Regions from separate parts of the Homo sapiens genome. Here region 2 is linked to region 1. Evidence: fine-mapped expression QTL. Tissue or cell type: skeletal muscle. Region 1 holds a variant in brackets; the other region holds the start of a gene. All regions are shown on one strand. Distances are between the middles of the regions.

Region 1 (2,848 bases):
TATTTTTAAAATAATATAAAAAGCTTAATATTACAGACAATCACAGTGAGAAAGCTACCCAGCAAAATACCTCAAATATACAAAGGATAATTACATAAACATTCTAGTAGGTAAAAACTGAGACTAATTTGTAGCAAGAAGTATTTAGGTTACATAAAAAACTTCAGCACTAGACTAGGCTATCATAGACAGACTTAAGGCCTAGGATAAGTTATAAAAATTATAGCTATGTTCTGCACAATTGGGCAGGTTTAAAAAAAAAAAAACAGAAAAAAAGATTACAGCTTTGGAAATAGGAACAGTCATCCATGGGCAGAACGGCTTAGGAGGGGATGTAAATGCAAGATGCATGAGCTGGCATCACATCAAGCTTGTTCTCGTACTAACTAAAACAGCTTCAGCTTGATATAGTGAAGAGGAAATCTCCTTCCCTAGGTAGAATATGACAATGGACAGGTGAAGACGGGCAGCATCTCTTGTTGATTCCGGGTGGCCTCTGCTGCTCACAGAGTCAGACGTGTTATTTGACTCTTCATCAAGCACCGGCAAGTCTCTGGATGGCTGCTGTTCTGGAAGAATGGTCAGGTCGAAAGTTGGCTACTATAGGCCGGGCGCAGTGGCTCACGCCTATAATCCTAGCACTTTGGGAGGCCGACGTGGGCGGATCACTTAAGGCCAGGAGTTTGAGACCAGCCTGGCCAACATGGTGAAACCCCATCTCTACTAAAAATACAAAAATTAGCCAGGCATAGTGGCATGCGCCCGTAGTCCCAGCTGCTTGGGAGGCTGAAGCACGAGAATCGCTTGAACCCGGAAGGTGGAAGTTGCAGTGAGCTGAGATTGCACCAGTGCCCTCCAGCCTGGGGGACACAGCAAGACTGCCTCAAAGGAAAAAAAAGTTGGCTACTTTAGAGCAGAGTTTCTCAACTGTTGACACTGGGGCTCAGTAATTCTTTGGTGCAGGGACCGTCCTGTAGAGGATATTTAGCAGCACCTCTGACCTGCACCCACCAGGTGCCAACAGCACCTGGCCAGGAAAAATGCCCAGGAGACAAAGGCCTAGATATGGTGTCCTCACTGAAAGGTAAGGAAACATACAAACTAGACTTAAAAATTAAAAGGAAAAATATTTAAGGGGCTATTCCGGGGATAAGCTACTAACAACCTTTTGAAAGGGAAAGGATAAAACACTGAAATAGCAAAATTTGAATTTATCTTTGGAAAAATCTTACAAGCTGAAATGTCCTAAAATGGTTTTTAAGTTAAAGGCAATTTTTAAATCTTACAGAAGCTAAAAACATAACTTTAACAGTGCGATGGTCTCCCTGTGAATTTTATTTTGCTCTGTTTCACTGAAGCTGCTTTCAGTAACAAAGAATGGGATTCTCATTAGAGGATGCTTCCTTCAGTGCCAAAACCATTAAGCAAAGCAAATGTACTTAGTCTAGTTCCAAAATATTAATTCATTTTAGATAAACACATATAAATGTGTGCATATAACCTCTTAAAAGAGGGAAGCTAGGCCGGGTGCGGTGGCTCACATCTGTAATCCCAACACTTTGGGAAGCCAAGAC[A/G]GGTGTATCACCTGAGGTCAGGAGTTCAAGACCAGCCTGGCCAACATGTTGAAAGCCTGTCTTTACAAAATACAAAAATTAGCTGGGCGTGGTGGCACACCCCTGTAATCCTAGCTACTTGGGAAGCTGAGGCAGGAGAATCACTTGAACCCGGGAGGTGGAGGTTGCAGTGAGCTGAGATCATGCCACTGCACTACAGCCTGGCAACAAGAGCAAAACTCCGTCTCAAAAAAAAAAAAAAAAGGCCGGGCGCGGTGGCTCATGCCTGTAATCCCAGCACTTTGGGAGGCTGAGGCAGGTGGATCACCTGAGGTCAGGAGTTCGAGACCAACTTGGCCAACATGGTAAAACCCAATCTCTACTAAAAATACAAAAATTAGCCGGGTGTGGTGGCTCCCGCCTGTATGCCTGTAGTCCCAGCTACTCGGGAGGCCGAGGCAGGAGAATTGCTTGAACCCAGGAGGTGGAGGTTGCAGTGAGCCAAGATCGTGCCACTGCACTCCAGTCTGGGCAACAGAGCGAGACTCTCAAAAAAAAAAGAGGCAAGCTGAAGTCCTACCTATGGACTGGGCATGGTGGCTCACGCCTATAATCCCAGTGTTTTGGGAGGCTAAGGCAGGAGGATCAATTGAGCCCAGGAGATTGAGACCAGCCCAGGCAACACAGCAAGGCACTGTCTCTACCAAAAATAAAGAAAACATTCCAGGCTATGAATACATTATTCTTGAAACCTCTGATACCAGCAGTAACAACCTCGCCTTGCTGGCTTTGGTCAGCGGTCATAGCAGCTGACAAAAGTATTTTGTCCACTAGAGGGAACCCAGCTTATCATATTGTTCCCTAAACAAATAGAAGCACAGCAGTGAACAAAATAGGAAAGAGAAACCTTTGTGTAAGTGTAGGGGGCGTGTGTGTTACATGCAGGGGAAAAGAAGGCAGGAAAATAATAAAACTGCAGAGCTAGACTTTTTGACTCTAGGTCACCTTAATATATTTGTATGAAGAAAGAAAACTGAACGCATTTCAAAGCATTTCATTTCCCTGTGCAAGATAAATAAAAAGGCAATATTCTATTTCAGCTAGTCTAAAAAAAATCTTCTATTTATATAGAAGTCCTTAAGATTTATCTGTATCTTACTAAAAATAATCTATTTCCTTATGGGTCAGAGCCAGTAGGCTTTGTTCATAACAAGTGTTTTCTGCACCTAGAAGTAACCACCTCCTAGGCACAAAGCAAAATACATTATTGGGAAGTCTAAGAAATGTTTAAAAGT
Region 2 (2,645 bases), 34 kb after region 1:
GTGGTGGGCGCCTGTAGTCTCAGCTACTCTGGAGGCTGAGGCAGGCGAATGGCGTGAACCCGGGAGGCGGAGGGTGCAGTAAGCCAGTGCATCCCAGCCTGGCAACAGGGCGAGACCCCATCTCAAAAAAAAAAAAAAAAAAAAAGGCAATCCCATAGTCTAAGGTCAGATAATAAGTAAAACACTTGACCTGAATCAACTCAGCAATCCATCATTTAGGAATTCTGCAAAGATCCTGTAGGTTTTTCATCAATGGGAAATTTCTTTACAATCTTTTGCAGTCAGCCTTCCCTGGGACACACTGGTAGGCAAACCAACCTGGAGAATTAGCTAGATTCGAGAGGTGAGGATTTCCTTTGCTACCCTAAATTCCATGAAGTTTAAATCTCCAGTTAAAATATTTTCTCTGCTACTTTGTGAATAACCACGTATCAAGCCCTTGTTTCTGTTATAAATTTATAATTCTATTTAGTCATAACTGTACAATAAAACAATTATTGTTACTAATTTTGCCAAAGTACAGGCTTCCAACTTAAAGTAGGAAATACAAAACAGGTCTCTCCAAGGTAAAGCCTGGAGACTGATCTCACTAAGAGATCTTATTTCAGTAAGCAGCAGAATGTTCATTTATTAGTGTTAAGAATTATCCTAACCACTTCTCCTAGGGACAGATGGATAAACAGTTCCACATAGCAACCTTGGGAACAATTCCAATTAGGGAATAAGAAGAAAAACAAAACTATGGTTTTGGGCATATGAATATATACTCATTCGCCAAACACTTTTCAAAATGATAGGTTCGATCCTACTTCTAGGCCTTAGGGAATGATTAGTAGTCCAAAATCCATTCTTTCTATTAGATCACTTTCCAAACTGTTTTCCTGCCTGTCCCCCAACCAGGCTCCTGGTCAGGAGCTGTTTTATTTCCTTGTACTTCCATCGTTTAATATTGTGTCCGACACGTAGCTGGTGCTCAAATGGCTGAATGACTACCAAAATGCCCACCCACGAGGCGGGCCCCCAAACCTGGCACTGTAGGTCAAAAATTAAACAGATCGTGAAACGGCATGACAGCAGCCTGGCCCTGCTCTCTGCCTCCAGAAGCTGAGGGCAGGTTGGGAAAAGTGCACTATGCACCCCAGAACCTCCCGAAGTACTGGCAGAACAGAGTGGGCTGTCCGACCCGCACGGGCTGCCTCTGTCCTCCAGGCATAGAACACGATTCTTCTCGTTCTTTAGGGCAGAGGGGACTCGGCTACTGCCCTCTCCTCCAAGCCCAACCTTGAAACGACCCTTCCCCAAGCTGGCCGCGCAAACGCTCCACGACGAAGCCCAAGCCTGGGCGCCCGGAGCTTCCCAGAGGAAAGGCACCGCGGTGCGCTGTGGGAGTCGTAGTTCCCCGGTGAGTTCCGCACCCGGGCGGCCCTACGAACGGGACTCGCGCTCCCAGAACACATCGCGCGGGCGCCTCGCCCAGTCCTGCCACCTCACCTGTTCTATGGACGTGACTGTTTCCACCGAGTCGTCCTGCAACCGCTCTCGCGCGTGCTCGGGCCTCAGACTGTACAGCGGCTCTGACCAGACGGGGGAGGAAGATGGAGGGCAATAGTAGGTGAAAGAACTCGGAGAAGCCATGATCAGGAGAGCAGCAGACAGTGTGTAGGACTCTGCTTCGTTAAGCAACAACGCGCATTGAAACTCGAGCGGGCTAAAGCGCTACGGCGAGCGGATAGAGGCAAAAAGATTTTGAACGCGAATGTCTCCTCCCGCCTACCCGTCTTTCGAGTGAGTTACTGAGATGCTGCCGCCCCCCATTGGGCAGAGGAGCTGCTGCAAGAGCGTAGAGTCCTGAAGCGCAAGGGTGTCTACATCCGAATTTCATTTCAGCGAGATGGCGTAGGACGCCTCGGTTTGTTACGCAAATTGTTAAAGAACTGTAACATTCTGCTAATTCTCACTTAATTGTAATGCAATTGTTTGCAATTTCAGGTGCCCAAGAACCCAATGAATGTTAAGTTTGAAAGCATTTCTGACAGCTCTACTGATTTGCCTCAGTCAGGCAATTACTAAAAGAATTATTGTGCACCTTGGGGTACTTGACAGCCTCCCAGGAGAAGGCAGCAGCTGCTCAAACGTGCAAGGACGCCGTCTCAGTATCACTCAGTGATGGAGGGAGGGGGGTATTATGATTTTCTCCTGTCTCTTGGAGGTTACACTGCAGTAGCGAGAACTGAAATGCAGTACAAGGAACAAGGATAAGTGAAATAGACAGTCAGTCCGCAGATATTTATGGAACACCTGCTATGTGTCAGGCATTGTGCTAGGTTCTAGGAATACAAAAGTGAACAAAACGAAGTCCCTTCCCTTGGAAACCTTACATTCTAAGAAAATCGACAGAATTGAATGTATCCAACGCAATAAATATATGAAGACTTGTGATAAATGAGATGAAGGAAAATAACAGGGTCTATGAGAGAGACTAAAGGGGTAAGAAACTAATTGAATTGTATGGTCAGGCCAAGCCTCTCTAAATGACCTTTCATTTGAGATCCGAAGGATGACGAGGAGTCATCCAGAAGAACAGTATGGGAAAGAACTCCTGAAAAAGGAAGAAACAGCAGCTTTTAGAAGACATGTGCTGGGCA

Alleles and levels. Positions count from the first base shown, and alleles are read on the strand shown. Sizes are in standard deviations (SD) of each study's normalised expression.
In carriers of allele A in region 1, the expression in skeletal muscle of the gene that starts at base 1,694 in region 2 tends to be higher than with G alone (small effect, 0.23 SD a copy in GTEx).

Evidence for each region. PIP is the estimated chance that this variant, and not a neighbour inherited with it, causes the effect.
Region 2: FNTB starts here. The variant in region 1 is fine-mapped to the expression of FNTB in skeletal muscle (GTEx, PIP 0.97).

The regions. Positions count from the first base shown.
Region 1 is chr14:65,019,703-65,022,550 of GRCh38, reverse strand. The region is part of intron 6 of CHURC1-FNTB (CHURC1-FNTB readthrough); the gene reads right to left. All of the region lies in intron 4 of FNTB (farnesyltransferase, CAAX box, subunit beta), which reads right to left. It also overlaps a transcript of MAX not described here. Among named protein-coding and RNA genes, the nearest start is that of MIR4706, 24 kb to the left of the region's middle. RefSeq lists a silencer at 2,481-2,530. The variant A/G (reference allele first, on the strand shown) is at 1,575.
Region 2 is chr14:64,985,944-64,988,588 of GRCh38, reverse strand. FNTB (farnesyltransferase, CAAX box, subunit beta) reads right to left here and starts at 1,694. Exons shown (of 12, transcript NM_002028.4): 1 at 1,492-1,694. The coding sequence starts at 1,635. The region is part of intron 3 of CHURC1-FNTB (CHURC1-FNTB readthrough); the gene reads right to left. It overlaps LOC107984655 (a long non-coding RNA gene), which reads left to right and starts at 1,476. Exons shown (of 2, transcript XR_001750792.2): 1 at 1,476-1,909; 2 at 1,990-2,645.